Regions from separate parts of the Homo sapiens genome. Here region 2 is linked to region 1. The links come from fine-mapping of genetic effects on gene expression. A gene starts in region 1. The other region holds a variant in brackets. All regions are shown on one strand. Distances are from middle to middle. Region 1 holds the start of TTC7B (tetratricopeptide repeat domain 7B). Region 2 overlaps TTC7B (tetratricopeptide repeat domain 7B).

What was found. PIP is the estimated chance that this variant, and not a neighbour inherited with it, causes the effect.
Region 2: its variant is the best candidate, but not a certain one, in a credible set for the expression of TTC7B in whole blood (INTERVAL, PIP 0.61).

What each region holds. Positions count from the first base shown.
Region 1 is chr14:90,814,383-90,819,898 of GRCh38, reverse strand. It overlaps TTC7B (tetratricopeptide repeat domain 7B), which reads left to right and starts at 3,469. Exons shown (of 20, transcript NM_001010854.2): 1 at 3,469-3,724. The coding sequence starts at 3,604. RefSeq lists a silencer at 3,296-3,475.
Region 2 is chr14:90,731,202-90,736,201 of GRCh38, reverse strand. The region is part of intron 4 of TTC7B (tetratricopeptide repeat domain 7B); the gene reads left to right. Among named protein-coding and RNA genes, the nearest start is that of TTC7B-AS2, 36 kb to the right of the region's middle. The variant G/A (reference allele first, on the strand shown) is at 3,079.

The DNA of each region.
Region 1 (5,516 bases):
AGCAGAGGCAGAAATGAGCCCAGAGGCCACAGGGCCCAGCTCTCAGGCTCCCACGGTGAAGCCCAGAGGGTTCCTTCTCTCTCCTGCTTCAGGCTGACAATGTTTGTCAGCCTCTGCTCCCAACCCCTATACCCAGCAACCTCTGCGCCCAAGCACATGGTCTGAAGAATATTCTGGTGTTGGGCCCCTGTAGGTGGCCTGCCGTGACGGTGGAAGCCTGGAACGTAGTGACATGGATTCATCATTGGGATGTTTCATCCTAAGGAAACGCACTCGCAGGTGGCTGTAGACCTTGGGGACTCCAGCCTCGTTCATTTAAGCTCCCACAATGTTCCAGGCCCTATGCGGCTTGCAAGGGGCAGAGAGACACAGAATGACAGCCGACATGGCACTCTATTGGTGCACTGGCACTGTTTTTTTTTTTGAGATGGAGTCTTGCTCTGTCACCCAGGCTGGAGTGCAGTGGCATGATGGAGATGCAACCTCTACCTCATGGGTTCAAGCGATTCTCCTGCCTCAGCCTCCCGAGTAGCTGGGACTACAGGTGCCCACCACCATGCCCGGCTAATTTTTTTGTATTTTTAGTAGAGACAGGGTTTCACCATGTTAGCCAGAAAGGTCTCGATCTTCTGACCTCGTGATCCACCCAAACTGCTGGGATTACAGGCGTGAGCCACAGAGCCTGGCATGCTGGCACTGTTCTCTGTGCCCTACCTGTATTTCCTCATTTCCTCCTCAACGAGCTCCAGGGGGAGGTATCACAGCCAAGAAATGGAGGCCTGGGGATGTTAAATGCCATGGCCCAGGCAGCATCCGTCCTCATGAAGCCACCTTATCAGGTAGGGAGGCAGACAGGTGGCCCTCATCATTTACCTTCCAGTGTGGCAACTGAGGCAGTGTATGCGTTAGTCATGATTAAGACCCTGCCCCTTCCCAGAGGGAGATGGCAAGTGCTGTCACACAAGGTCTGTCAGATGTTGAGCAAGGCTGCCCAGTAACCTTTGGCCCGTGTCTGAAAGAAGGCACAGGAATCTGTCTCCTGGTCCAGATGGAGAACATTCCCAGCAAATCTGGAGAGGCAGACTGGAGTTGGGAGAACAGGAGGGTGTCAGGAGAGAGGAAACATCTCCTGTGGAGATTTCTTCTCCTTCCCTTCCTGCTCCCTCTTGGTGGGAGCTAAGGGCCAGGGCACTAAAGGGTCCCCTGTTGAAACTCTAACGTTCTAGTTCCCCTTTCCCTGGGCTGTTCACAGTGTCCAGGGCCTGTCAGCTCAACTTCCATCACCTTGGCAGTCCCTGAGGCACCTGAAAGTGATACTGGTCACATCAGAACACATCTCCTTATCTTTCCTCCTCACCTCTCTTAAATGTCTGTGATTCAGCCTCCTCATTGGTAAACTGAGGTCCACAGTGTGTGTTCTTCATCAACTCCGGTGGTGGGGGAGTTGTGGTGGGGATAAGAACCTGCGTGTGACTGCTCTTGGAAAGTTGGAGTAAGGGCACCCAGAAGGAATGACGACGACCCCTCAGTGCCTCCTTGTGACTGCGGGCGGGCTACGGAACCTTCCAGACTGACCGCTTCACTCTCAAATGCAGGACCCAGAATCCAACACTGCCACCACCACAGCTATTTCCCTGGCAGTATTCTCAACACTGCAGTCACAGTGATAGTCCAAAGTGTAGGTCTGATCATGCCACTCTTCCGTGAAAAGCCCTGCAGGGCTGCTCCATGTCACCAGAGTAAAAGTCAAAGTTTTTTTTTTTTTTTTTGAGACGGAGTCTCTCTCTGTTGCCCAGGCTGGAGTGCAGTGCTGCCATCTCAGCTCACTGCAAACTCCGCCTCCCGGGTTCACACCATTCTCCTGCCTCAGCCTCCCCAGCAGCTGGGACTACAGGCGCCTGCCACCACGCCCGGCTAATTTTTAAAAATATTTTTAGTAGAGACGGGTTTCACCATGTTAGCTAGGACGGTCTCGATCTTCTGACCTCGTGATCCGCCCACCTCGGCCTCCCAAAGTGCTGGGATTACAGGCGTGAGCCACCGTGCCCAGCCAAAAGCCAAGGTCTTATAATGGCCCACCAGGCACTACACAGAACTCCCCCCAACCTCTCAGAGTTCATCTCCTGCCTCGGCCCCTCTCCTTCGCTCCACCCAGCCCCTCTGGCCTCTGCCATTTCTCCATCCCACCCAGTGTGCTCTAACCCCAGAGCCTTCGCACTTGTGGTGTTCTCTGCCTGGGATACTCCTCCCCCAGAGATATCCTCATGGCTCCCCCTTAGTTTCTTCAAGTCTAATGCCACCTCCGTGAGGCCATCCCTGACTGCTCCATTTTAAATGGCAACACTTGCTCAGGCTGAAGTGCGTTCACTGCTCACTGCAGCCTCCACCTTCTGGGCTCAAGCAATCATCCTGCCTCAGCCTCCTGAGTAGCTGGGATTACAGGCATGAGCCACCCGCCTGTCCCAACTCTTTATGTTCCTCACTGAACCCTTCCCTGTTTCTTCAAATAGCCATTTTTACAGTCTAGTTTACTATTTTATTTTGCTTATTTTTCCCCCAAACTGGAATGTAAGCTCTCTCAAGCCAGGAATTTTGTTTTTTTAGCTCACAATTCTATCTCTGGCACCTAAAGCAGCGCCCAGCACATAGTAGGTGATCACTAGACAGTTGATTCACTGAGAGAACACAGAGGGACACCTCCCTAGGTCTCAGTCTAGGTGGCCAAGACAGGAGGCCCCACCAGTGACTGTGCCTTCCCCTCAGGGGGTCCGAGAGCTGGCGTGTGAGAGTGGCAGCCCCTGCCTGGCTCCGCTCAGCCATCTAGGGCACCCCTGGCAGGTGCTGTGCCTTGCCTGGGATGGAGGAGTCTCCGTCCACCTCTGGCTGGGTAGGGGCTAAGGCTGCGGGGCAGAGGGGCATCTGCTAAGGGGCACAGGCCAACCGGGCCCCAGGGAACCGCTGGCCACCTGAGATGGCAGGACAAACTCGGGCAGGCCTCCCCCCACCCCTCACACCTGGCTCACTGGTCCCACCGGGCGGTGACCTTCCCCAGGGTCACTGCCCTTTCTTGGCCCTACTCCTGGGGATCCAACCCGCTCCCAGGCTGTCGCTAGCTCCCTCCCGATCCTCTCCCTCCCCTTCATCCTGCCCAGACCCCTACCCCACCAGACCCCTCACCCGCCCTTGGTCAGATCTCTCTCCTACCCCGCTCCCCCACCCCCATCCCCACTTCCCCTCGGTCTTCACCCCGCCCCAGACACCCCCAGTCCCTCTCCCTGTCCTCCATGCCCACCCCGCCTTTCCTCCCTCGGGCCCCTGTCTCCCGCCCTAGCCCCCGCCCCTGCCCCAGCCCTGGCTCCGGCCCCGGTCAGTGCTGCGGCTCCGGCCCTGGCCGGCAGGGGCCGCTCCTCGCGGCGCCCGGGGCCCCGCCGCGCCCGCCGCCGCCGCCCGCCTCCCCGCCCCTTCCCCAGCCGGCGCTCCCGTTACGCCGCGGAGCCGGGAGCCGGAGCCCGAGCCCGCGGCGGCGGCGGGAGGCGGCGAGGGGGCGCCGCGGCGGCGGCGGTGGGGCCTGCGGGGCGGGCGGCCGGGCCCGGCCAGGCCGCGATGGCGACCAAGAAGGCAGGCTCGCGGCTGGAGACGGAGATCGAGCGCTGCCGCTCCGAGTGCCAGTGGGAGCGGATCCCTGAGCTCGTCAAGCAGCTGTCGGCCAAGCTCATCGCCAACGGTACGCTCCGGGCGCGCCGGCCTGGGCTGCGGGGGGCGCCGCGGCCTCCGCGGGAACGGGCCCCCGAGGCGCGGCCGGGCGCGGGGCGCGGGCAGGGGCGCGGCCGGGCCGCGAGGGAGCTGCGGCCCAGGGGATGTGCGCGGGACCGGGGCCTGGGGGAGCCCGGGTGCCCCGGAGTCACGCGGTGTGGGGGCCCGGGGGGGCGCCAGGGGCTGTCCCGGCGCCTGGGGTTCAAGCGTGCAGGGCGGGCTTCTGCGGAGTCTGGGGTGTCCGGGGGTCTCAGCGAGTCCGCTGCTCCACTGGGACCACAGGAGGTCAGGGGCCGGCCTGGGGCTTCCAAGAAGTTGGAGGTGATGGGGTGAGGGGGTCCCTCAGGACATGGGTGAAGTCCACAGTGTGTGTATGGTGTGCTCAGGGAATCAGGATGTGTTTATGGGGTCTTGAGAATGGGGTGTTGTACATAGACCCCTGGGGAATCTGGTTTGTAAACATATGGTGTTTAAGGGGTTCTGGGTGGAAGCGCAGACTCGAGGTGTGTGGGGTGGTGGTAGAAAGCAGGCTGGGATGTGCGTCCTGGCGTTCGGAGAAGTAGCATCAAGGCTGCCGACCTAGAGAGGTCAGGGTTGGGAATAGAGGAGAAATAGAGTCAGGGGGACCTGGAGGGAGAATATTGTGGAGCGAGATGGGAATGTGGTTGAAGAATGTCGGGAGATGGAGTTGGGTGGGTGAGGGGTTGGTGCCTGGGCCAGAAGGGGGTCTGAGGCAGCCTCTGAGTAGGAGCCTGGTGCCTGGAGTTGGTTCATGACCCCTTTAACTGGATTGGTTCTTGTACCCAATCAAATAAAATTGCATCCAGAATCCCATTCCAGTGCACAGCTCCACGTGGCCTTATTTGTTTTGGAAGCGAGTATCTTTAATATTTGCTTGTCTTTTAGTACCCGCCTAAAGCGCAGGCACCAGCACACCGTGGCCAGAGGGCAGAGGGTTTGTCTCATTTCATCCTGGGCTTCCCCAGGCCCAGTGAGCACATGTTGGCTGAACAAATGAATGAAAGAGTGAATGAATGGATGGCGGGGCTGCTCTAAGAAAGGACATCTGCACTATTTTCAACCTTCTCACTTCAGACTACCCAGAAAGGAGAGGGATGTCAGGTGTCCTCCTGGAGGGTGGTTTATGTTTGTGTCCTATGGTATTAGTGCCTGGAAATTAGAACTTGGTTTTGCGCACTCTCAATGATGGATGCATGCTGTGGGCAGGTACCTTCTGGGTGAACGCAGGTGCCATGGTGTGTCAGGGGCATGGAGATAGCACCGACCCTACACGGGCTCCACTTGGTGGAAAATGTGGACCCTTCTCAGTTATGTCAGCCTTTGAGGAGATGGTGTTCAGTGCCCTGGGCCCCAGAGGCAGCTTGCCTTTGCCCTCCGTGTCGGGCTCACCTGCTTCTCCGCTTACCTGCAGCATTTTCTCTTTTCCTCTCGGAGTTGCACAGTCCTGGGTCTACTTTGTGGCTTCCCAGCGGTGTAGGCATAATGACACCTTCTGTGCAGGTTGATTTTAGGATTAAATGGGTTTATTTGTGAGCCTCCTGGTCTTTTTTCTTCTGAATCCACTTGTTTCCTGCTGTCTTTGCTTATTCATTCACCCAATATTTGCGTGCCCACCTGTGCCAGTCACAGAACAGTGGTGAACAGCACTGACCAAGCCCCTGCCCTTATGCCCTCACCCTGCTCTCAGGAGGCAGGTGATAAGCAAATATGGAAATAAATAAACAGCACAGCTTCAGATAGTG
Region 2 (5,000 bases), 83 kb after region 1:
TTAATTTCCAAATGTAGTTGGGGTTCATTGTGGTATATATATATATATATAGCTCTAAATTAATTTTTCTCAATTAAAATTTCCCAAATTTCCAAATTTCAGTGCTACTTTAAGATGATCTTTCCTTTTCATATTTTCTGTCATATATTTTTAGTCATTCAATAAAATTCTGGCTTTTTAATTGTGTTGTACCAACATGACACTGTTTAATAGGCACTTCTTTATGATAGGTTTTAACATTTAAATGATTAGTAACTACTCATTACTTTTATTTTTCAGGTTATCCTTTGTTCTTATCTCATTCTAATACTTTCAGGTAAATTTTAGAATAATTTTGTTGAGTTCAAGAAAAATCCTTTTGGGATTTGGTTGAATTTTTAATTCCATACATTAATTTGGAGAATTATATTTAGTCTCCTGTCATCTATGACCCTCTTCCTATTTTGTCAAGATTTTTTTGTTCTATAGACTTTAGTAGGTTTTTTAAAAAAAAAAAATATTTAAAAAAAGTGATGAGGTTTCGCTGTGTTGCCCAGGCTGGTCTCGAACTCCTGACCTCAAGCGATCCACCCACCTTGGCCTTCCAAAGTGCTGAGATTACAGGCGTGAGCCACTGCACCTGGCCAGTAGGTGGTTTTATTCTCAGATCTTTTCTATTTTTATTGCTTTATGAATAGGATCTTTTTTTTTTTTTTGAGACAAGGTCTCACTCTGTCACCCAGGCTGGAGTGCAGTGGTGTGATCATAGCTCACTGCAACCTCAAGCTCTTGGACTTAAGCAATCCTTCCGCCTCAGCATCCCCAGTAGTTTGGACTACAGGTACACACCACCACACCTGGCTAATTTTTAACATTTTCGTAGAGACCAGGGTCTCACCATGTTGCCCAGACTGGTCTCAAACTCCTGGTCTCAAGCATTCCACCTTTCTTGGCCTCTCAAAGTGTTGGGATTACAGGCGTGAGCCACCGTGCCTGGCCTAGATCATTTTTGAAATTATATTTTAACATATAAATGTGCCTGTGATGTTTTAATTCACTTGCACAATCATGTATTGAGTGCCTTCCATGTTCTGGATACTGTTTGACTGCAGGGGCACTAGAATGGGTATGTCACAGAGCCTGCCCTTAAGTGGTTCACACCTGTAATCCTAGCACTTTGGGAGGCCGAGGCAGGTGGATCACCTGAGGTCAGGAGTTCAAGACTAGCCTGGCCAACATGGTGAAATCTTGTCTATACTAAAAATTTAAAAATTAGCTGGGCGTGGTGGCGCATGCCTGTAATCCCAGCTACTCAGGAGGCTGAGGCAGGAGAATCACTTGAACCTGGGAGGCAGAGGTTGCAGTGAGCCGAGATCGTGCCACTGTACTCTAGCCTGGGCGACAGAAACTCCGTCTCCAAAATAAATAAATAAATAAATAATAAAATAAATAAAAATTTAAAAAGAAGCTCATGAGGACACAGGTCCTTAGCCAGGAGGAGTGCTGTGGTGGGAATTCTCAGAGAACTCTGAGAGCTCCAGAAAAGGCCTTGGGCCAGTGTGGGAGTTCAGGGATGTCTCCTGGAAGAGATGATGCCTGAGCAGCATCTTGAAGGCTGACAAGGATAGCAGTGTCGAGGATGGCAAGGATGGTGTTTATTGTCCATAATACTGAAGTCTTCTATAGAAACAGAGTTGATGCTTTTCAAAGCATGATAGTGATCATAGCTCATTGCAGCCTATAGATCTATGAGGTGGAATGATTTTTGTCGTTGTTTCCTCCTTTCTTTTTTTTTTTTTTTGGGAGACAGAGTCTCACTCTGTCACTCAGGCTGGTGTGCAGTGGCGCAATCTTGGCTCACTGCATTCTCCGCCTCCCAGGTTCAAGCAATTCTCATGCCTCAGCCTACTGAGTAGCTGGGTCTACAGGCACGTGCCACCACACCTGGCTAAGTTTTTGTATTTTTAGTAGAGACGGGGTTTTGCCATGTTGGCCAGGCTGGTCTTGAACTCCTGAGCTCGAGGAATCCACCCACCTCAGCCTCCCATAATGCTGTGATTACAAGCATGAGCCACCACGCCTGGCCTGTTTCCTCCTTTCGAATATTTTCCATCTTATATGTCTCATGCCTTATTGCCATAATTTATAAAACGATGTTAAGAAATAAAGATTTTTATTTTGTTTCTACTTAAAGGTAACTCTTTAATATAGCTCCATTAAGGATTATACTATTTGTACAATAATGTATAATATTTGTTCATGCAGTTAATATAACTCCATTAAGGATTATAATATTTGTATAATAATGTATGGTATTTGCTCATGAAGTGAAGTTTCTCATTTGCAATTCAAACCAACCTTGTGAGGTAGGTATTATTATCCCCATTGTATAGATGAGGGCAGTGAAGGTCTGTGAGGTCAGAGGTGTTGTCCTAAGTCCGCGAATGGTGGGTGAGCAGTGTCAGAACCAGACCTCGCGCCTCGGTCTTTTGACTAAAATCTTCAGCCCCTTCCCCGTGCTTCCTCAGTCATTGGGTACTTGCTTCTGCCAGAGCCAGCTGCGCTTGTTAAGGACGCTTGTTGGCAGTCTCCTCGCTGGAAGTGTTTATCCACAGAACAAGTGGTGGCTTCAGCACTGCCAAACAATGCTTCTGCCCAGGCCCATGTGTTGGAGGCTCTTTGTGAGGAAGGGATTAAGTTCAAGATGCTTAGACTTCAGGGTAAGCCCTGAGCTATGCTAGTCCCTCCAAGGCTTCTCTTGCGTCTTTCCCATTCTCCCATTTATAACCTTAAGCCACCTCCTGGCTGCCCTTGTGTTTTGGACTTTGCTCTGCAAGCAGACACAGATGAAGGAGAAGGAGCCGGGCTGTGGAGTCAGGGGGATCTGGGTTTCTGCACCAGCTCCACCGCTCTCAAGCCACATGATTCGGGCACCTCACTTGGTGGAGCAGTCTCCGCTTCCCCTCTGGTAAAGAGAGGACAATGGTGTGTATCTCGGTGGGTTTTTGTGGAGGAATACATGAGATAGCGATGTACCCACATGGTGCCTAAGACACAGTGGGTTACTTTCCTGTTGCCTTTTCTCTGCATTTATGATTG[G/A]CCTTGAAAGTTTATTCATTTACTATGTATATTGAATGCTTATCCTGCACTAGACACTGGGTAAGTAAAATAGGCGTGGCCTCTGACTTTGTGGAATTTGTAGCACAGTGGAGAGAGACAGCCAGAAATCAAGTGAAGAAATAACAATGGCAAATGTAATGAAGGAATAGGAAAGGATGCTGTGGGCAGGCGAATAGGGCAGACTTCCTTAATGCCGATTGTTAGAAAAGGCCCTTCGGAGGAAGCAAGAAGCAGAAGCAAGCTGATATCTGAGAGATGAGAAAGAGGAAAAGGAGCTTAAGAGCAACATAATCCAGATTGGATTATGAAAAATTATTCAGGAGCTGGGCGCAGTGGCTCATGATCCAGACTGGATTATGAAAAATTATTCAGGAGCCGGGCGCAGTGGCTCATGATCCAGACTGGATTATGAAAAATTTTTCAGGAGCCAGGCGCAGTGGCTCATGCCTGTAATCTCAGCACTTTGGCAGGCCGAGGCAGTTGGATTTCTTGAGCTCAGGAGTTCAAGACCAGCCTGGGCAGCATGGTGAAACCTCATCTCTACAAAAAATACAAGAATTAGCCGAGTATGGTGGCACACACCTGTAGTCCCAGCTACTTGGGAGGCTGAGGTGGGAGGATCGTTTGAGCCTGCGAGGTTGAGGCTGCAGGGAGCCATGGTCATGCCACTGCCCTCCAGCTTGGGTGACAGAAATTATTCAGGCTGCTTATAGAGAGTGAGGGAAATAGGGAAGCAAGAGAGGACGTGGAGACTCCATTCAGGAGGCTGTTGTAGAAATCTAACAGGAAGTCCTGGCAGCTCGGATGATGTAATGGTAGTAGAAATGGATAGTCACAGACATAGTTGAGAAATAATTAGGAGGGACAAACTTTCTAAAGTGTAACTTTGGTTACACTTTAGTTCCTTCTGTTAAATTTAACTAAATTAAATATAATGATTTAAATTTAAAACTAGCATATATAACATGATCTCATTTTTTTGTAAAATGATTTTTATCTTTCTCTGCTTGATACATGTGTCCACAAAGATATCTGGATTGTCGTTCAATAAATGTTAACTGTGGTTATTTTTGTGTGATGGAATTGTGAGGTGATTTTTTTATTTTCTTTTTTGTGCTGTACTGAATTTTTTACTTTAAAATAATCATGGCATGTCAAAATTAAAACTATGCTGAAAAGCAAATGAAGGATGATTTTTAAAAGTTTCCGTGTTGGACCTCCAAGTGCAGCAGTTGGATATGTGAGTTGGAAATTCACAGAGAAAGTCTTGACTACAGCTATAAACTTGGGCGTTGGCAGCATACTGATGATTTTGAAGCTCTTAGGGATGGATGCGGTCATCTCAAGAGACCTAAGAGAGAAAGGAGTGTGGCTCCGATGGTGCCGCGTGCATCTCTGGCACTTGACGGATGAGTGGAGGAGGAGCCTGTAGTGGGTGGAAATGAGGTTCCCAGAGAGGAGGAACTCCCGGAGAGTCAGGGGTGCAGAGCTGAGGGCTAAGTCAGGACGGAGCTGGGCAATTTCTATAAGATGCTGGGATCCGGTTCACATGCAAGGGTTGCCCACCTGGGTTTCATTCCTCGATGTCTCGTTTATCATGTACCTTCTACCTTTCTTTTCCCCAAAGCTTGTGGGTTAGGGAACTAATAATTACTTCCACTCTGTTTGGAGACTAAGGTTTCAAGACCTCTAGGATGTTTGGGGTTTGGCAAACAACTGGGTCTTTTGAAGAGCTGCTGACTTTCAGCAAATGTGGACGGCATGTTTGGAGAACATTGGTTTTTATGTGAGCCACAAGTAGGCTTTCCTCTGAGAAATGCTTTGACTTGTGAGTTTAAAGAGAGTAGCAGCAGGCCGGGCGCAGGGGCTCACGCCTGTAATCCCAGCACTTTGGGAGGCCA